Linked DNA regions of Homo sapiens. The protein of the gene in region 2 interacts with the protein of the main gene of each other region in a biochemical or structural test. Each region holds a gene or a part of one and is shown on either strand. Other genes may lie near its edges.

Region 1 (8,171 bases), on a different chromosome or scaffold from region 2:
CCAGCTGCTCAGATTCCGCAACCCAGGGCCCTTTCCCAAAGCTCTCCTCTGCAGCCCCAGGGCCTCCCCCACTGCTTGACTGGGAACCCTCTTACCCAGACATCTGGCTTGGAGGCCGGCTCTCTGGGGCCCCAGGGCATTTTCATGACCGCCTTGAATCCCTTTCCCACCTGCACTTACCGACCTGTTGTCTCCCCTCACTCCAGTTCTGCAGTTGACCCACTGTCTTTGCCAATGTCTCCTAGGCAGTGACATCAGTGTCTGGCCCAGGTGAGCACCTCCGAAATGCCCTGTGGCATACTGGCCACACCCCTGATCAGGTACGACTGCTGTGGACAGACCCACGAAATGTGGGCTGGCGGGACAAGACCTCCTATCGCTGGCAGCTTCTGCACCGGCCTCAAGTTGGCTACATTCGGTAAGGAGAGGGGCTGAGCCCACCTGTGGGACTCAGGCCGGGCCTGTCCTTCCTCTTTAGCTGGGATTCACCAGTGACCTCTCCATGGGTGGGAACTGCAGCCACTTCTCTCCATCACCCTTCTCACCACGGACACAAGCACCTATGAGTGATGTTGGTGAAGTCACTCCTCCATGACCCATTTTCCCGTCTGTAAAATGAGGGCATTGGGTTAGATGCCCTTTACAGTTCTCCAGAAGCCTCCAAACCCAGGCCAATCTGTGAAGGGGCACATCACATCTGGTCCCTTAGTTGGTATGACCTGGAACCTGTCTTATCAACGTGGATAGGGATCATCTGACCTGGAAGGCATCATCATTTACAGAAGAGAAAATCAAGGCCCTGACTTCACAGGCCTCGGTTCAACACTTTGTCCACAACTTTGCATTTCTCTCCAACAAGTAGCCCTAGTTGGTGGAGATGAACAGGAAGGGAGGGGAAATGGGTCTGCTTAGAGGCTGGACTTTCCATGGCCAAGAGCCCAGAGTCCAGGAACCTGGGTTGGTTCCCCTTTAAGGTGCCTGGGGCTGTGGGGTGCCAGGACAGGGGATAAAAGGGGGTGGACTAGAGCCTGGGAAGCGGGTGACTTCACCCCCCAGCCCATTGTGCTTATTGTCATGGCAACCCAATCCTCGCTTGGAATGCGGCTGGTGCTTTGAGATGCAAAAGGAGCTGGACAAAGAGCTAGGGGCCCCAGGCCTGAGAAAAGCACCCCCCTTCCCTCTCCTTCCTGCCTCCCTTTCCCTCCCTCCCTTCTCTCTCAGGCCTGGTGAGCTCAAGGGGGGCTGGGGAAAAGCAAGGCCCCAGGCATGGTGGCACAGTGCCCACTGGCACCCTAGCACCAATGGATACTCCTATCCTGGAATCCTGGACAGGGTGAAGCTCTATGAGGGACCCCAGCTTGTGGCGGATTCTGGGGTGATCATTGACACATCCATGCGAGGGGGGCGTCTTGGTGTATTCTGCTTCTCCCAAGAAAACATAATTTGGTCCAATCTCCAGTATCGATGCAATGGTGAGGTGGCTGATTGAGATCAACCTAATCCTTCATGCCTTGTGGGAGAGCCACATCCTCTGACCTTACTTATTTCCCCTTCTTCAGACACAGTGCCTGAGGACTTTGAGCCATTCCGGAGGCAGCTGCTCCAGGGAAGGGTGTGAGGAGGAGGCCACCAGATTCAGAATTCAGAATTTTAGACCCTTTGGCCTTGGGGTCCATCCTGGAGACCCTGAGGTCTAAGCTACAGCCCCTCAGCCAACCACAGACCCTTCTCTGGCTCCCAAAAGGAGTTCAGTCCCAGAGGGGTGGTCACCCCACCCTTCAGGGGATGAGAAGTTTTCAAGGGGTATTACTCAGGCACTAACCCCAGGAAAGATGACAGCACATTGCCATAAAGTTTTGGTTGTTTTCTAAGCCAGTGCAACTGCTTATTTTAGGGATTTTCCGGGATAGGGTGGGGAAGTGGAAGGAATCGGCGAGTAGAAGAGAAAGCCTGGGAGGGTGGAAGTTAGGGATCTAGGGGAAGTTTGGCTGATTTGGGGATGCGGGTGGGGGAGGTGCTGGATGGAGTTAAGTGAAGGATAGGGTGCCTGAGGGAGGATGCCCGAAGTCCTCCCAGACCCACTTACTCACGGTGGCAGCGGCGACACTCCAGTCTATCAAAGATCCGCCGGGATGGAGAGCCAGGAGGGCGGGGGCTGCCCCGCTAGGGGTAGCGGGGAGGCCGGGGGGCCGGGGGGGCCGGAGGCCGGGACGAGTGCAATATTGGCGGGGGAAAAAACAACACTGCACCGCGTCCCGTCCCTCCCGCCCGCCCGGGGCCCGGGATCCCGCTCCCCACCGCCTGAAGCCGGCCCGACCCGGGAACCCGGGGCGCGCTGGGGAGTTGGGTTCACCTTGGAGGCCAGAGAGACTTGGCGCCCGGAAGGCAAAGGGAATGGCAAGGGGGAGGGGGGAGGGAGAACGGGAGTTTGCGGAGTCCCAGAAGGCCGCTTTCCGACGCCCGGGCGTTGCGCGCGCTTGCTCTTTAAGTACTCAGACTGCGCGGCGCGGAGCCGTCGCCATGGTGACGCGTGTCCCAGCAACCGAACTGAATGGCTGTTGCTTGGCAATGCCGGGAGTTGAGGTTTGGGGCCGCCCACCTAGCTACTCGTGTTTTCTCCGGCCTGCGAGTTGGGGGGCTCCCCGCCTCCCCGGCCCGCGCTCCCGGGCGCGCTGACGTCAGATGTCCCCACCCCGCCCAGCGCCTGCCCCAGGGTCTCGCCGCACACAAAGCTGCGCCTCGGGCGCCGCGCGGCGCGCGGGCGAGAGCTGTGGTCTCTCGCCTGCTGATCTGATGCGCTCCAATCCCGTGCCTCGCCGAAGTGTTTTTAAAGTGTTCTTTCCAACCTGTGTCTTTGGGGCTGAGAACTGTTTTCTGAATACAGGCGGAACTGCTTCCGTCGGCCTAGAGCGCAGCCTGCGACTGCGGGACCCAAGTTCCACGTGCTGCCGCGGCCTGGGATAGCTTCCTCCCCTCGTGCACTGCTGCCGCACACACCTCTTGGCTGTCGCGCATTACGCACCTCACGTGTGCTTTTGCCCCCCGCTACGTGCCTACCTGTCCCCAATACCACTCTGCTCCCCAAAGGATAGTTCTGTGTCCGTAAATCCCATTCTGTCACCCCACCTACTCTCTGCCCCCCCCTTTTTTGTTTTGAGACGGAGTCTTGCTCTGTCGCCCAGGCTGGAGTGCAATGGCGCGATCTCGGCTCACTGCAACCTCCGCCTCCCGGGTTCAAGCGATTCTCCTGCCTCAGCCTCCTGAGTAGCTGGGGTTACAGCGCCCGCCACCACGCTCGGCTAATTTTTGTAGTTTTTAGTAGAGACGAGGTTTCACCATCTTGGCCAGGCTGGTCTTGAACCCCTGACCTTGTGATCCACTCGCCTCGGCCTTCCAAAGTGTTGGGATTACGGGCGTGAGCCACCGTGCCACGCCCGATCTGCCTCTTAAGTACATAACGGCCCACACAGAACGTGTCCAACTCCCCCGCCCACGTTCCAACGTCCTCTCCCACATACCTCGGTGCCCCTTCCACATACCTCAGGACCCCACCCGCTTAGCTCCATTTCCTCCAGACGCCACCACCACGCGTCCCGGAGTGCCCCCTCCTAAAGCTCCCAGCCGTCCACCATGCTGTGCGTTCCTCCCTCCCTGGCCACGGCAGTGACCCTTCTCTCCCGGGCCCTGCTTCCCTCTCGCGGGCTCTCGCTGCCTCACTTAGGCAGCGCTGCCCTTACTCCTCTCCGCCCGGTCCGAGCGGCCCCTCAGCTTGCGCGGCCCAGCCCCGCAAGGCTCCCGGTGACCACTAGAGGGCGGGAGGAGCTCCTGGCCAGTGGTGGAGAGTGGCAAGGAAGGACCCTAGGGTTCATCGGAGCCCAGGTTTACTCCCTTAAGTGGAAATTTCTTCCCCCACTCCCTCCTTGGCTTTCTCCAAGGAGGGAACCCAGGCTGCTGGAAAGTCCGGCTGGGGCGGGGACTGTGGGTTTCAGGGTAGAACTGCGTGTGGAACGGGACAGGGAGCGGTTAGAAGGGTGGGGCTATTCCGGGAAGTGGTGGGGGGAGGGAGCCCAAAACTAGCACCTAGTCCACTCATTATCCAGCCCTCTTATTTCTCGGCCCCGCTCTGCTTCAGTGGACCCGGGGAGGGCGGGGAAGTGGAGTGGGAGACCTAGGGGTGGGCTTCCCGACCTTGCTGTACAGGACCTCGACCTAGCTGGCTTTGTTCCCCATCCCCACGTTAGTTGTTGCCCTGAGGCTAAAACTAGAGCCCAGGGGCCCCAAGTTCCAGACTGCCCCTCCCCCCTCCCCCGGAGCCAGGGAGTGGTTGGTGAAAGGGGGAGGCCAGCTGGAGAACAAACGGGTAGTCAGGGGGTTGAGCGATTAGAGCCCTTGTACCCTACCCAGGAATGGTTGGGGAGGAGGAGGAAGAGGTAGGAGGTAGGGGAGGGGGCGGGGTTTTGTCACCTGTCACCTGCTCCGGCTGTGCCTAGGGCGGGCGGGCGGGGAGTGGGGGGACCGGTATAAAGCGGTAGGCGCCTGTGCCCGCTCCACCTCTCAAGCAGCCAGCGCCTGCCTGAATCTGTTCTGCCCCCTCCCCACCCATTTCACCACCACCATGACACCGGGCACCCAGTCTCCTTTCTTCCTGCTGCTGCTCCTCACAGTGCTTACAGGTGAGGGGCACGAGGTGGGGAGTGGGCTGCCCTGCTTAGGTGGTCTTCGTGGTCTTTCTGTGGGTTTTGCTCCCTGGCAGATGGCACCATGAAGTTAAGGTAAGAATTGCAGACAGAGGCTGCCCTGTCTGTGCCAGAAGGAGGGAGAGGCTAAGGACAGGCTGAGAAGAGTTGCCCCCAACCCTGAGAGTGGGTACCAGGGGCAAGCAAATGTCCTGTAGAGAAGTCTAGGGGGAAGAGAGTAGGGAGAGGGAAGGCTTAAGAGGGGAAGAAATGCAGGGGCCATGAGCCAAGGCCTATGGGCAGAGAGAAGGAGGCTGCTGCAGGGAAGGAGGCGGCCAACCCAGGGGTTACTGAGGCTGCCCACTCCCCAGTCCTCCTGGTATTATTTCTCTGGTGGCCAGAGCTTATATTTTCTTCTTGCTCTTATTTTTCCTTCATAAAGACCCAACCCTATGACTTTAACTTCTTACAGCTACCACAGCCCCTAAACCCGCAACAGTTGTTACGGGTTCTGGTCATGCAAGCTCTACCCCAGGTGGAGAAAAGGAGACTTCGGCTACCCAGAGAAGTTCAGTGCCCAGCTCTACTGAGAAGAATGCTGTGAGTATGACCAGCAGCGTACTCTCCAGCCACAGCCCCGGTTCAGGCTCCTCCACCACTCAGGGACAGGATGTCACTCTGGCCCCGGCCACGGAACCAGCTTCAGGTTCAGCTGCCACCTGGGGACAGGATGTCACCTCGGTCCCAGTCACCAGGCCAGCCCTGGGCTCCACCACCCCGCCAGCCCACGATGTCACCTCAGCCCCGGACAACAAGCCAGCCCCGGGCTCCACCGCCCCCCCAGCCCACGGTGTCACCTCGGCCCCGGACACCAGGCCGGCCCCGGGCTCCACCGCCCCCCAAGCCCACGGTGTCACCTCGGCCCCGGACACCAGGCCGGCCCCGGGCTCCACCGCCCCCCCAGCCCACGGTGTCACCTCGGCCCCGGACACCAGGCCCGCCCCGGGCTCCACCGCCCCCCCAGCCCACGGTGTCACCTCGGCCCCGGACACCAGGTCCGCCCCGGGCTCCACCGCGCCCGCAGCCCACGGTGTCACCTCGGCCCCGGACACCAGGTCGGTCCCGGGCTCCACCGCCCCCCAAGCCCACGGTGTCACCTCGGCCCCGGACACCAGGCCGGCCCCGGGCTCCACCGCCCCCCCAGCCCACGGTGTCACCTCGGCCCCGGACACCAGGCCGGTTCCGGGCTCCACCGCCCCCCCAGCCCACGGTGTCACCTCGGCCCCGGACACCAGGCCGGCCCCGGGCTCCACCGCCCCCCCAGTCTACGGTGTCACCTCGGCCTCGGAGAGCAGGCCGGACCCGGGCTCCACCGCGCCCGCAGTCTACGATGTCACCTCGGCCCTCGGAGAGAAGGACGGACCCGGGCTCCACCGCGCCCGCAGCCCACGGTGTCACCTCGGCCCCGGACACCAGGCCGGCCCCGGGCTCCACCGCCCCCCAAGCCCACGGTGTCACCTCGGCCCCGGACACCAGGCCGGCCCCGGGCTCCACCGCCCCCCCAGCCCACGGTGTCACCTCGGCCCCGGACACCAGGCCCGCCCCGGGCTCCACCGCCCCCCCAGCCCACGGTGTCACCTCGGCCCCGGACACCAGGCCCGCCCCGGGCTCCACCGCGCCCGCAGCCCACGGTGTCACCTCGGCCCCGGACACCAGGCCGGCCCCGGGCTCCACCGCCCCCCAAGCCCACGGTGTCACCTCGGCCCCGGACACCAGGCCGGCCCCGGGCTCCACCGCCCCCCCAGCCCACGGTGTCACCTCGGCCCCGGACCCCTGCCGGCCCCGGGCTCCACCGCCCCCCCAGCCCAGTTTTCCAACCCCGGACACCAGGCCGGCCCCGGCTCCACCGCCCCCCCAGACACCAGGCCGGCCCCGGGCTCCACCGCCCCCCAAGCCCACGGTGTCACCTCGACCCCGGACACCAGGCCGGCCCCGGGCTCCACCGCCCCCCCAGCCCACGGTGTCACCTCGGCCCCGGACACCAGGCCCGCCCCGGGCTCCACCGCCCCCCCAGCCCACGGTGTCACCTCGGCCCCGGACACCAGGCCCGCCCCGGGCTCCACCGCGCCCGCAGCCCACGGTGTCACCTCGGCCCCGGACACCAGGCCGGCCCCGGGCTCCACCGCCCCCCAAGCCCACGGTGTCACCTCGGCCCCGGACACCAGGCCGGCCCCGGGCTCCACCGCCCCCCCAGCCCACGGTGTCACCTCGGCCCCGGACACCAGGCCGGCCCCAGGGCTCCACCGCCCCCCCAGCCCACGGTGTCACCTCGGCCCCGGACACCAGGCCGGCCCCGGGCTCCCCCCCCCCCCCAGCCCACGGTGTCACCTCGGCCCCGGAGAGTTCCGCCCCGGGCTCCACCGCGCCCGCAGCCCACGGTGTCACCTCGGCCCCAGAGAGCAGGCCGGCCCCGGGCTCCACCGCGCCCGCAGCCCACGGAGTCACCACGGCCCCGGAAAGCAGTTCTGGCCCGGGCTCCACCGCGCCCCCAGCCCACGGTGTCACCTCGGCCCCGGACACCAGGCCGGCCCCGGGCTCCACCGCGCCCGCAGCCCACGGTGTCACCTCGGCCCCGGAGAGCAGGCCGGCCCCGGGCTCCACCGCGCCCGCAGCCCACGGTGTCACCTCGGCCCCGGAGAGCAGGCCGGCCCCGGGCTCCACCGCCCCCCCAGCCCACGGTGTCACCTCGGCCCCGGACACCAGGCCGGCCCCGGGCTCCACCGCCCCCCCAACCCACGGTGTCACCTCGGCCCCGGACACCAGTCCCGCCCCGGGCTCCACCGCCCCCCCAGCCCACGGTGTCACCTCGGCCCCGGACACAAGGCCCGCCCCGGGCTACACCGCGCCCGCAGCCCACGGTGTCACCTCGGCCCCGGACACCAGGCCGGCCCCGGGCTCCACCGCCCCCCAAGCCCACGGTGTCACCTCGGCCCCGGACACCAGGCCGGCCCCGGGCTCCACCGCCCCCCCAGCCCACGGTGTCACCTCGGCCCCGGACACCAGGCCGGCCCCGGGCTCCACCGCCCCCCCAGCCCACGGTGTCACCTCGGCCCCGGACACCAGGCCGGCCCCGGGCTCCACCGCCCCCCCAGCCCACGGTGTCACCTCGGCCCCGGAGAGCAGGCCGGCCCCGGGCTCCACCGCGAGAGCAGCCCACGGTGTCACCTCGGCCCCGGAGAGCAGGCCGGCCCCGGGCTCCACCGCCCCCCCAGCCCACGGTGTCACCTCGGCCCCGGACACCAGGCCGGCCCCGGGCTCCACCGCCCCCCCAGCCCACGGTGTCACCTCGGCCCCGGACACCAGGCCGGCCCCGGGCTCCACCGCCCCCCCAGCCCACGGTGTCACCTCGGCCCCGGACACCAGGCCGGCCCCGGGCTCCACCGCCCCCCCAGCCCACGGTGTCACCTCGGCCCCGGACACCAGGCCGGCCCCGGG
Region 2 (4,697 bases):
AATTTTTCTTCAGCATTTGTCCTCAGTACAGGTGGTTCCTTGAAACATTGTTTCTAATAAAACTAGAACATCCTGATATTTTATCCATTCTATAGAGATCATTGATGGTACACAGACATACAGTGGATTATGTTTGTTGAGTGAATGGAAAGAGAGATTGTTAGGTTTACAACGATGCAGCTCTTGAGACCGGAGTTTAAGATCAGCCTGGGCAACATAGTGAAACCCCATCTTTAGCTGGGCATGGAGATGGATGCCTATAGTCCTAGCTACTGGGGAGACGGGGGCAGGAGGATTGCTTGAACCCAGGAGTTAACAGACTGCACTCAGTGACAGAGCCAGACTCCAACACAAAAAAAAAAAAAAAAAAAAAGCAAATTACCAGTGAGTAGTGTGTTACTTGGGTTTTTAATAGGCATCTTATTAACATGTTCCAACTTGAGCCCTTAACTTTCTCCACCTACCCCCTTCCACAAACCTGTTTTCACTGTCTTCTCTGTCTTAGTTAATGTCAGCTTTGTCTGTCCAGCTGCTCAGGCTAAAACTTTTCTTTCATATAACACATCCTATCAGCAGCTCCTGTTTGTGGGTAGGCATTTTGCCTTTTTTTTTTTTTTTTTTTTTAAACTGCTATATCTCTAGCATGTAGAACAGTGCCTGGCAGCACATAATAGGTGCTTAATATAATATTTGTTGAAAGAACAAGTCAGTGAGTATTTTTAATGTGAGGTGCAAAGAGAAAAAAAAATGTATCTTTGAGGTGTGGAGTTTTGAAGAACTTCCATTTTCTAAGCATTTGTGTAATGTTGGAGTTACTTGTTCCTTTTGTAATCTGAAAGTATGCTTTAAAAAAAATTAGTGTACTTTTGAGAATTTTCATTTTGCTTTCTATTCTTCCTTGCTTTGTGCATGTTTATCTAGACTGCTGATCTTGGACTTGATATTGGTGCCCAGGGAGAACCCCTTGGATATCGCCAGGATGGTATGTGTCTCATATTTCTCGATTAACTCCAGATCAAGCTAAAGTTCTAAAACTTTTATCAGAAGAGCCGGTTTGCTCATCTGGGAAACCAGTGTTGGCAGAAAAGTAGTGGCTTCAATTAAAAGCAGTTCTTAAATTCCAGTCAGCAACAGTATCTTTAATGGAGCACAGGGAATTCAGAGCCACACAATGAGTAGCAGTAGGATTACACCACCAACAAATACATGCTACTGCTAGGCCTCTGCAGTGCAGGATGTTACAATTTACCTGGCTTTTTATTCTCTTTTTGGCCAGAGGACTCATAATACCTTTGTCTACAAGCTACCCAAGGAAGATAGGAAAACTCCTGTTTCTAGGCTCAGATCTCGGGTGGGTTTTTACATAGTTGCATTATCATCAGGGTTTTCTTGAAAAGCTAATTTAAATCTGGGTAATGAACATGGAGGATGGCATAGACCACTAACAATTATAACTGTCTTACATTTATAACCGCATCTGCTTCTACCTAATTATGAAACCACTAAAGCGCAGATTCTTACTGTGAGAAATAACATGTCAACCCTAAGATAAAATATGTTGAGGTTTCATGGAAATAGTGCCTTTCCTTAGTACTTTTGTGGGTGTCACTTGGCCTTTTTGTCAAGATAGATTACACCTGCCAGACCTCATTATTGTCTTAATCCTCCTTCCCATGACTTCTCACTGCCTAGGTGGTCACACAGTAGATTCCTGCTTCTTCTCCTCGGGAACCCCAAGTCTCTTGACAGGGGTAAATGCAGAGTGTTCAGGGTTAGACTAATGATGTGACTAGGCCCTGCTGGTGTGCCTGTCTGATGGAAATAGATGTTATTTGTGTAGTCTCATGGGTGGCCTGGCACTGAGTAATTACTTGGCTAAAGAAAGCTGGAGGTTGAAGAGGCTAGAAAGCGTTGTTTTCTGACAAGTTTGCTGCTGAACTTTGGATGCCCTAACCTCAGTGTTAACGTCTATGTCTGCTTCTCTCCTCTCTCTTTTGCCTTCCTTCTTGCCTATTTTGTTGACACCCTGACTCTTCTAGATCCTAGCTATCGTTCTTTTCACTCTGGTGGATATGGCCAGGATGCCTTGGGTATGGACCCCATGATGGAACATGAGATGGGTGGCCACCACCCTGGTGCTGACTATCCAGTTGATGGGCTGCCAGATCTGGGGCATGCCCAGGACCTCATGGATGGGCTGCCTCCAGGTGACAGCAATCAGCTGGCCTGGTTTGATACTGACCTGTAAATCATCCTTTAGGTAAGAAGTTTTAAAAAGCCAGTTTGGGTAAAATACTTTTACTCTGCCTACAGAACTTCAGAAAGACTTGGTTGGTAGGGTGGGAGTGGTTTAGGCTATTTGTAAATCTGCCACAAAAACAGGTATATACTTTGAAAGGAGATGTCTTGGAACATTGGAATGTTCTCAGATTTCTGGTTGTTATGTGATCATGTGTGGAAGTTATTAACTTTAATGTTTTTTGCCACAGCTTTTGCAACTTAATACTCAAATGAGTAACATTTGCTGTTTTAAACATTAATAGCAGCCTTTCTCTCTTTATACAGCTGTATTGTCTGAACTTGCATTGTGATTGGCCTGTAGAGTTGCTGAGAGGGCTCGAGGGGTGGGCTGGTATCTCAGAAAGTGCCTGACACACTAACCAAGCTGAGTTTCCTATGGGAACAATTGAAGTAAACTTTTTGTTCTGGTCCTTTTTGGTCGAGGAGTAACAATACAAATGGATTTTGGGAGTGACTCAAGAAGTGAAGAATGCACAAGAATGGATCACAAGATGGAATTTATCAAACCCTAGCCTTGCTTGTTAAATTTTTTTTTTTTTTTTTTTAAGAATATCTGTAATGGTACTGACTTTGCTTGCTTTGAAGTAGCTCTTTTTTTTTTTTTTTTTTTTTTTTTGCAGTAACTGTTTTTTAAGTCTCTCGTAGTGTTAAGTTATAGTGAATACTGCTACAGCAATTTCTAATTTTTAAGAATTGAGTAATGGTGTAGAACACTAATTCATAATCACTCTAATTAATTGTAATCTGAATAAAGTGTAACAATTGTGTAGCCTTTTTGTATAAAATAGACAAATAGAAAATGGTCCAATTAGTTTCCTTTTTAATATGCTTAAAATAAGCAGGTGGATCTATTTCATGTTTTTGATCAAAAACTATTTGGGATATGTATGGGTAGGGTAAATCAGTAAGAGGTGTTATTTGGAACCTTGTTTTGGACAGTTTACCAGTTGCCTTTTATCCCAAAGTTGTTGTAACCTGCTGTGATACGATGCTTCAAGAGAAAATGCGGTTATAAAAAATGGTTCAGAATTAAACTTTTAATTCATTCGATTGTGTCACTCTTTCTTTTTTTCTTGTCATTAATAAATGGTTTGTGAGGGTGGTAAGTAAGTTTATCCAACTCAACTTTATCCTGAACTTTATCCTGAGATAGATAGATACATAGTGAAGTAATTTGTTGTAGCGATAGAGAGGGCCCTACTTCTCTAGATGCAATTTGCCAAGTTTCTTTAGCATTTGGCCCTGGATTACGCTGGACCCCTAAAAAAGTGTTTCAGCCTTGCACATTGTGATTAGTTCTGGGCTTTGGTGGGAGAAAGCCAAGCAGACTATCCATCTATCTATCTCTACCCCAATCCCCCTCAGATGATTTGATTCCATTAAAGTAATGAAATAAATAGTAACTACCCCTACCTGGATTTGGATTTGAATCACCTTCACCCAAGTGTGACTCATTGGGAGAGGGGAATTCCTTCAACTGGACTTTGAACTAATAATAATTAAATAAATTAAATAGGTTTAAGTGTTGATGTTTATCTGAACATAATCAGAACCAGAATGAGCCTTCCACAGTACCTGCCAGATGATCCTATCATCCCGGTGGTAGGTCTGACAAGCTTAGTTCATCTCATCTCTTCAGGTAGACCTGTTTGTTAAGACTTGTGTTTTGGTCTTTTAAAAAGTAAAAGAAAGAAGTGTTTTGTCTTTAGGGAGAGCTCTTTCTGATTTACTGTTTTTATTTTGATGATGATTGATAGTGACTATTAATTATGAGAAAAACATACATTCAGTTCTTTTTCGTTAAAAATCAGCTTCATCTGGGGAGGCCTTTTTGTGAATGCCCTTGCTTTGCAAAAATGAATTCATTGTGGTCTAAAATGTAATTAGGGTTTGAAAAGAAACATTCACATAGCTGATGATGTGGTAGGTCTCAGGTTCTGTCTCATGTGTGATAAACCAAACCAGCCAGTATTTCAAGAAGCCTAGGGCTATTGGTAGGTTAACACCGTGAAGATCTTCAGTGAATTCAGCTTTTAACATAAAGAGCCACCGCACGGTGTTTCAATTACAGAAAGAACAACTTTTTAAAACCAGAGAATGTTTTCAGAGCTTTGCTAATTCATTGTATTTTATTTTTGAAGTTTAAAAACTTAATGTGAGAGTTAATCCAGTTCAACAAGGTGGCTCTGGAAGTACCAAGGGTGAATAATAGCCAAGACGCTTAGGAAAAATAGCACTTGCTCTAGCAGCTGTCAAGGCCTAACTACTTAATACAAAGCTAAAGTTAGTTAACCCTGTTACAGGAATAGGGATATAAATACAGATTAATACAGAATAATACACAGGCATTTAAAGACTCTTCAGAGACAGCGTTGGAGATCCGAGTGGGAGGAGAG
Region 3 (8,056 bases), on a different chromosome or scaffold from region 2:
GTGCAGTGGCATGATCTTGGCTCACTGCAACCTCCACTTTCCAGGTTCAAGCAGTTCTCCTGCCTCAACCTCCCGAGTAGCTGGGACTACAGGCATGTGCCACCACACCTGGCTCATTTTTGTATTTTTAGTAGAGACAGGGTTTCACCATGTTGGCCAGGATGGTCTTGATCTCTTGACCTCGTGATCCGCCCACCTTGGCCTCCCAAAGTGCTGGATTACAGGTGTGAGCCACCGTGCCTGGCCTAAATAAATAATTTCGTAAGCATATACAATCCACTTCCCACTAAGAATTAGGGTCAAAGACATTCTATTTGAACACTTGCAATTACCTAGATCTAGTTGGCCTTTGGTTGATAGATCCTCTGCCTCGGAATTTCATTGAGTTTTTTTCTTCCTTGCCTTTGGGTGTCTGCTTGCCACTTCCTAAGAATTCTTGTAGAAGGCAGTTTCCTCTACTTGCCCAAGAGCACTGAGTACTTCTCTACTATCCTATTATTAGCTTCTATCTCTTAGTGTAACTTCAAAACTTTTAAGAGCAGTGAAGTTGGTCAGGGACATGTGGCCACTTATTATTACCTAAAGAAAACATTTGTTCCCTGTTCATTTTATTTTAGGGGCCAGATCTAACATTGTAGTGTCTTTCACCAGATAGACTTCTACTGTTTCATCAAACTCCCTTCTTAACTAGACCTAGACTTTCTACTCCAATCAGGCTAATCTACTTACTGAATGTGACATATTTATTCCTAGTTCCATACCTTTGCACATGCCCTACTCTCCACTAATTATACTTAAAAGTCCAAAAATTTTTTCTTTAGTAACAGACTTAGGTACTGCTAAGCAGTTATTAACACAATATTCCTTAGTTTTCATATGTTGGTTATTCATATGTCTATTTATATGTATATTTATTTTTATGTATGTTACTATGTAAATATGGTTTGCAGTTGTTTTTGTGTGGAATCTTGTCTTTCCGTATAAGTTGTAAGCTCCTTGAGAGCAGGATCCATGTCATTCCTTTATTTTTATAAATTATTCCCCCTATCATTCCTTTACAGTGCCTAGTGCTACTCATTATGTGTTCATTGAATTTGACTGACATAGTTAAAAACTTAAGGTTTATTTTAGACTTTCAAGGAAACAAAAGACTTTAGAGTCCTCTCTCTGTAATTCTGCCCCACTCATTTGTTTACCCTGGGTTTTATACAGTTCTCTTCCTTCTCCCCTCCCACCTTTCCCTGGCTTTTTGCCTCCATTCCATGAGGCATACAGTAAGGCTGCCTGCTAGTAAGCAGTCACATAAGTGGGTACCTATCCAGCCATTCTCTTTTCAGAGCATATAATACTATCTTAGCCAAACTTGCCTTTGCTTCACTCATCATGCAGCCTTCTGGGTTGGTTGCTATATATATCTTTTTTCCTTGATGTCCCGTTCTCTTCCACAGCCCTGAGGTCTTACGAATTTTTCTACTTTCTTTTTGCTGTTGATGAATTGTTTCATTATTAAATATATGCATGTATCAAAGCTATTCATACTCCATGTGTCATTTCTAATTGTATCCCAAACATTAGTAGATACTCTCCTCTCAGGGAATTAAATCAAAGATAATGAAGAAGCCTCTTTGGGATTCATGCTATACTCGATTCTGACCCCAGTAGTAGTAGTAATAGTTGACAGTGCACCACAGGAAGTTGGAAGACATTTGGGGTATTGCTTTGGTTATGCTTTTGTTTTGTTTTTAAAATCCTATCTGATTCCAAAAAGGATTTGAAGCTGTTGAACTTGGAGTTAGCCTGCCCCCTTACCTCTGGGCGAAAACTAAAGTAATAAAAACTAGTTTCTGTACAGAAGGTTTTTTTTTTGTTTTTTTTTTTTTTACTACCCAAAAAAACAATCTTTAGCAATTGAGAAGCATTAGAGGATTGGTCAAAGACAGCATTCTGCCTAGAGCTACTGCTTTCAGAGTCAATAAAGGATACCATTTTGATATTTTGGAGCACAGTTTTTTAATATTAATGCCCATATCTTGTTCTATTAACCAAGCCGACTTATGACCTTCTGTACTTGGGTATTGCACCAATTGTAAGGGAAGCATGAGAAAAAAAAGTATCTGGGCAAAATCATCTGTATTCTGAGTGAAGTGGTCATGAAGAATTATAAAAAGTGGATATGCCACCCCATATGAAGAATGGTAGTTATGAAATAATGTCCACTTTTTTTTTTTTTCCATCTATAGTCTTACCAATGTCCATTGGTTTTTGAAGGCCAAGACCATTGGAAATCATACTAAGATCAGTGTAGGTACCAGAAATTGGTTCAGGCACACCTGTTCCCATTTCCATAATATCTATAGCTCCTTTGATGACAGGTCTATTCTGTACCAGATGGATAATAGGCTCTCATCCTAGAAACTATTAATAATTAAGGTTATATCTGTATATGCATTTACAGACAAACACATTGTTCTGATAAATCTTAATACTAACATCAAATTGATATAATGGCAGCAGTAGCCAGGAGAGAATTTGGTTGACAGATTTTTTTTTTTTTTTTTTTTGAGACAGAGTTTCCCGCTTGTTGCCCAGGCTGGAGTGCAATGGCATGATCTAGGCTCACCACAACCTCCGCCTCCCGAGTTCAAGTGATTTTCCTGCCTCAGCCTCCTGAGTAGCTGGGGTTACAGGCATGCACCACCACACCCAGCTACTTTTGTATTTTTAGTAGAGACGGGGTTTCTCCATGTTGGTCAGGCTGGTCTTGAACTCCGGACCTTAGGTGATCCACCCGCCTCGGCCTCCCAAAGTGCTGGGATTACAGGCGTGAGCTACCGCGCCTGTCTTGGCTGACAGATTTTGATACACAGGGAAATGTATTTGGCCAAGTCTTTTTTTTTTTTTTTTTTTTTTTTTTTTTTTTTTTGAGATGGAATTTCGCTCTTGTTGCCCAGGCTGGAGTGCAGTGGTGAGATCTTGGCTCACCACAACCTCCGCCTCCTGGGTTCAAGCGATTCTCCTGCCTCAGCCTCCCGAGTAGCTGGGATTATGGGTGTCTGCCACCACGCCCGGCTAATTTTTTTTTGTATCTTTACTAGAGACGGGGTTTCACTATGTTGGCCAGGCTGCTCTCGAACTCCTGACCTCAGGCGATCCACCCGCCTCAGCCTCCCAAAGTGCTGGGATTACAGGCGTGAGCCACTGCGCCCAGCTTAAGGCCGAGTCTTATCACTCATATGACTTCTTGATGTCTCTGAGCTCCTATCATGTAAGACCATGCAATTATGTTACTCCTTGAGAAATTCCTTTAATAATCTGGAAGGATTCCCTCACTCACAACTTTAAAAAAGATTTCTTGGCCAGGAATGGTGGCTCATGTCTGTAATCCCAGCACTTTGGGAGGCCGAGGTGGGCGGATCACTTGAGGTCTGGAGTTCGAAACCAGCCTGACCAACATGGCGAAACCCCGTCTCTACTAAAAATACAAAAATTAGCTGGGCGTGGTGGCGGGAGCCTGTAGTCTCAGCTACTCAGGAAGCTGAGACAGGAGAATTGCTTGAACCCGGGAGGCAGAGGTTGCAGTGAGCCGAGATCGCCCCACTGCACTCCAGCCTGGGTGACCGAGCGAGACTCCATCTCAAAAAAAAAAAAAAAAATTAGGCCTTTAAAAAAAAAAAGGAATTCCTCCTTAAGTCCTGTTCTTGATTTCCAACTGATTCACAGTGCCCCTACTGGAAAATTTGCAGTGAATCCTAAAGCTTAGTAGCACCTATAATAGATACATGTCCTGATATTTTGAGTGAGGTGTCCATAAAGGATTACCCTAGGAAAGTGCAACTTTCACTCTCATTAGAAGAATTAATTTTTGCTTATTTGATTTGTTAAAATTGCTTTACTCCTACAGTTAAGTGAGAGGGTGGTGGTGGTTGTTGCCCGTAACCACATACGGCATTACTCCAGGGTTTCACGTCGTGACTGAGGGGCCTCCTAAGTGTATACAGCAGAGTATGTTCGGGCTGGACCTAGATAGTCGGACAGAACACCGACAGGGTCTTCACATTCTTTAAGCACTCTCACCCAGTCCCGGAGTCCGAGCCAAGATGGCTTCCCAGAAGTAGGTAACTAAGTGTTGTTTTAGTTCACAGCGCCCCCAATGGCGGGGGTCAAAAAAAGATGCCGAGGGGCCTGGCCGCCTGTGAACTGAGTCGTCAGAGGCGAGCCGCCGCCAGATTTTATTTTCAATCAGGCATATTTGTGGTCGCCTACGTACCCTTCTCATCCTCCTAGGACCTTCCACCCTCAAGAGACTTCCTGGATGGCGCTCACACTAGCTCGCTGGAAGAGGCCGGGCTTCGGTGCTGCCATTGGCGGATGGGAGCGCAGGGGGGCGGAGCCTAGGGAGAATGGACTACTAGCAAGCTAGATTGAGGCGAGGGCTGGCCATGCTCCGCCGGAAGGCGCCTTGTTCTCGGAGAGGGTGAGTTGAAACGCTGCCTGGAAAGGAAGTACCAGGACTTGCACAGGTAGGCTTCCCGCTCGCACCCGCTCCTCAGTGCTGGGCCAGGAGTCAGCAAAAGCTGAGGCTCTCAGAGATTTGATTTAAGTAACTCCTTCTCCTCTCTCTTCCACCCCCTGCTCGCCCCCCAGTTGTGAGGGATCAGGTGCGGGGTGATGCTCCGGACTGAACCAGTCTCCTTTGTGAGAGGCCGGGGGAGAGGGTGGCTGCCGGGCCGCGGGGTCCGAGCCGGGCCGAGCCGCGAGGGACTGCTTGGGACGCTGTGGAGTTTTCAGGGCTTGTCATTGCATTACTGGGCGTAGTGTAGATTGGAGGCGGCGCCTTGTTCTCCTCTCTTCAGAGAAGGGAAAACTCCTCGGCCCCGTTTGGTTACTCCATACTTTGGATTCAGAAATAGGTGGTTAGGGTTTTCTACTTCTTTTTATTTTTTTTTCTTCTGTATTTTAATAATAAAGGTGGGTAGGAAAGCATGGGGTAAGCGTAAGCAGATTGTTACTCATTCTCAGGTGTAAGTTCTGTGGGTCTCCTGGCAGTGAAGAGCAGGCTGTTGGAGAATGTTTAGAGATGGTGGGAAGAGAGGAGCTCAAGCCTTGCATCCTCCTTGACAGGTCTGCAGAGCTCACTGGTTTTCCGTTGCATTATGTAAACTCGTCACTGATAGAAGACCCTTCCCCCTGCTTTGGAACGAATGCAGTTTATTTACCTGTCTCTAGTGTCGCAGGGAATTTCCCTGCAGCAGCTGTATAAATGCAGCAGCCTCTTGCTTTTTAAGGGACAGTCTTGAAGCGGTTAGGGTCTTCACAGAAAAGGTATATAGTGGACCCATCTCTTTCGTATGGCTAAGCAAAGTGAGCCAGAAGTCAAAGATTTAGAACTCTGTCTTTTTCTATTAAAGAATAAACAGCGGAGCGCCCCAAACACAAGCCAGGGGAGCTGCCTTATCAGTGTCTGCTGCATCCTACCATCACAGCGGCGTCTACAGATCGTTTCATCTCCATGCTTTTCTGAGTTTGTCGACTCAGTCAAGGATTCTCAGCCTAGGTTAGCATATGCTGAAGTCATCTGGTGTGGGGCACATTACATATCGAAAGTGAGTTTGTGATTTGAATCGTGTCCTGTGTTAGTTAATTAGATCGTGTCTTCTGCTTAGGAATTTCTTTTGTATTGGTCATCCAATAGGTTTCAGAACAAATTCTAGTCAACCTCATAGAGCAAGATATGAGAAACTTATTTCAAGTACTTTGGAATTATCCCAACCCTTAAAAAAAGAGTTATGATAAGAAAAACATTTTCCATGTAAGAAGACCTTCTGCTGCAAGAGAGGCGTGTCAGTGGATCTGAAGGCAAGTGAAAGATATTGGCCAAAGAGAGAGTAGGCAAGTTTGAAGAGACAGGCTTAGGAGAAAGTTTAAAACTGAAATAGTGGCTCACGCTTGTAATCTCAGCACTTTGGGAGGTGGAGGCGGACGGATCACTTGAAGTCAGGAGTTCGAGACCAGCCTGACCAACATGGTGAAACCCCGTCTCTAAAAGTACAAAAAATACAAAAAAAAATTAGCCGGGCATGGTGACGCGTGCCTGTAGTCCCAGCTACATGGGAGGCCAAGGCATGAAAATCGCTTGAACCCTGGAGGTGGAGATTGCAGTGAGCCAAGATCGTGCCCCTGCATTCCGGCCTGGGCGACACAGCCAGAGGATAGCAAAGGAGTAATGGATTGGGATAAGGGATATAATGGAACAGTGTATGAGTACTTGAACAGTTTTTGTATTCTCCATGTTTGATCTGTCCTGTGCATCTGCTCTTTTGGTTTTGTCAGTTTTCTTTTCTTTTCTTTTCTTTTCTTTTCTTTTCTTTTCTTTTCTTTTCTTTTCTTTTTTTTTGAGACGGAGTCTTGCTCTGTCACCCAGGCTGGAGTGCAGTGGCAGGATCTCGGCTCACTGCAACCTCCGCCTCCCAGGTTCAAGTAATTCTCCTGCCTGAGCCTTCCGAGTAGCTGGGATTACAGGCGCCCGCCACCATGCTTGGCTAATTTTTTTTTTTATTTTTAGTAGAGACGGGGTTTCACCATATTGGCTAGGCTGGTCTTGAACTTCTGACCTCGTGATCCTCCCGCCTCGGCCTCCCGAAGTGCTGGGATTACAGGCATGAGCCACTTTTCTAAGCAAAATTACCACTTAAGATTAAGTTGTGGGTGTCAAAACTGTGTTTGCTTACTGAAGAAATAAGATTTGATATTCTCATATGTGAAAGGACTGTAACATTCAGATGAATGCTAAATGCTTTAGTGAACTGTTTGTCTACAGCTCTGGAAGAGTTAAGCTATCTTCTGAGCTTACATTGAGCCTAATACTTGGGAGGAAAACAGAAGACAAACATTTCTCTCGAGTCTCCACTTTCACCTCTAGAATCTCTCTACTTCTGGAGTTGGATTTGAGCCAGTCCTTGATCTGCAGGTCTTCGCATGACCTGTCCTTACATTACTGTGACCATTGTGGTATAATATTTACTATTTTACCTTTAGCATTTGATTCATTGACAGACTATCATGTTTCTTATCTCACTTTAACTTTTTATATCCCCTCTTACATGATCTATGATCTTTTATTCTTTTGTCTCACCAAGTTGGTGATCTTTTCATCTTCCTGTGATTTTGCTCACTTTCCTTTTCACTTAATTCACTGACGTTGTACACTTTTGCTTCTGTTTAGCTGAAACCTTTTAGGGAATGTAATTTCTGTATTTTTAGTAGAGACGGGGTTTCACCATATTGGCCAGGCTGGTCTTTAACTCCTGACCTCGTGAAAATTGAAACCTTTTAGGGTATCTAATTTTCAAGATGTGGTCTTTCTTTGGTACCTAGCACCCAAATGAGAGTTGTCTTTCTTTCTTTCTTAAGAGACGGGGTCTTGCCATCTTGCCCCAGCTGGTCTTGAACTCCTCGGCTCAAGTGATCCACCCACCTTGGCCTCCCGAAGTGCTGGGATTACAGGTGTGGGCCACCACACCCAGCCTGACAGTTGTATTTCTTTGTTTTTTGTTTTCTTTTTTTTTTTTTGAGATGGAGTCTCGCTGTGTCACCCAGGCAGGAATGCAGTGGTGCGATCTTTGCTCACTGAAAGCTCTGCCTCCCAGTTCAAGTGATTCTTCTGCCTCAGCCTTCCGAGTAGCTGGGACTACAGGCGCGCACCACCATGCCCGGCTAATTTTTGTATTTTTAGTAGAGACAGGGTTTCACCATATTGGCCAGGCTGGTCTTTAACTCCTGACCTCATGATCGGCCTGTCTCGGCCACCCAAATCGCTGGGATTACAGGCGTCAGCCACTGCGCCCGGCTGACAGTTGTATTTCTATGTAATGGGATTGTTGTATGAAGTTTTCTTTTTTTTTTTTCTTTTGAGACAAGTCTCCCTGTGTCTCCCAGGCTGGAGCGCAGTGGCGCGATCTCGGCTTACTGCAACCTCCACCTCCTGGGTTCAAGTGATTCTCCTGCTTTAGCTTCCCAAGTAGCTGGGGTTAAGGCGTGTGCCACCACGCCTGGCTAA

Evidence for each region.
Region 1: the proteins of CTNNB1 (region 2) and MUC1 form a complex in vitro, tested with the Homo sapiens proteins (5 studies listed by BioGRID).
Region 3: the proteins of CTNNB1 (region 2) and CHD8 form a complex in vitro, tested with the Homo sapiens proteins (3 studies listed by BioGRID).

What each region holds. Positions count from the first base shown.
Region 1 is NC_000001.11:155,189,288-155,197,458, reverse strand, and holds the start of MUC1 (mucin-1 isoform 10 precursor), read left to right. Parts: upstream 1-4,543; 5' UTR 4,544-4,615; coding exon 4,616-4,673; intron 4,674-5,148; coding exon 5,149-5,551; coding exon of another isoform or gene 5,552-5,911; intron 5,912-6,152; coding exon of another isoform or gene 6,153-6,478; intron 6,479-6,807; coding exon of another isoform or gene 6,808-6,970; intron 6,971-6,971; coding exon of another isoform or gene 6,972-7,079; intron 7,080-7,256; coding exon of another isoform or gene 7,257-8,171. Other genes in the region: THBS3 (thrombospondin-3), read left to right, coding at 246-418, 1,333-1,472, 1,560-1,618. UniProt on the Homo sapiens protein: The alpha subunit has cell adhesive properties. Can act both as an adhesion and an anti-adhesion protein. May provide a protective layer on epithelial cells against bacterial and enzyme attack.
Region 2 is NC_000003.12:41,237,095-41,241,791, forward strand, and holds the end of CTNNB1 (catenin beta-1), read left to right. Parts: intron 1-921; coding exon 922-982; intron 983-2,039; coding exon 2,040-2,248; 3' UTR 2,249-2,565; coding exon of another isoform or gene 2,566-2,652; 3' UTR 2,653-3,349; downstream 3,350-4,697. UniProt on the Homo sapiens protein: Key downstream component of the canonical Wnt signaling pathway.
Region 3 is NC_000014.9:21,452,496-21,460,551, reverse strand, and holds the start of CHD8 (chromodomain-helicase-DNA-binding protein 8), read left to right. Parts: upstream 1-4,428; 5' UTR 4,429-4,520; intron 4,521-8,056. UniProt on the Homo sapiens protein: ATP-dependent chromatin-remodeling factor, it slides nucleosomes along DNA; nucleosome sliding requires ATP. Acts as a transcription repressor by remodeling chromatin structure and recruiting histone H1 to target genes.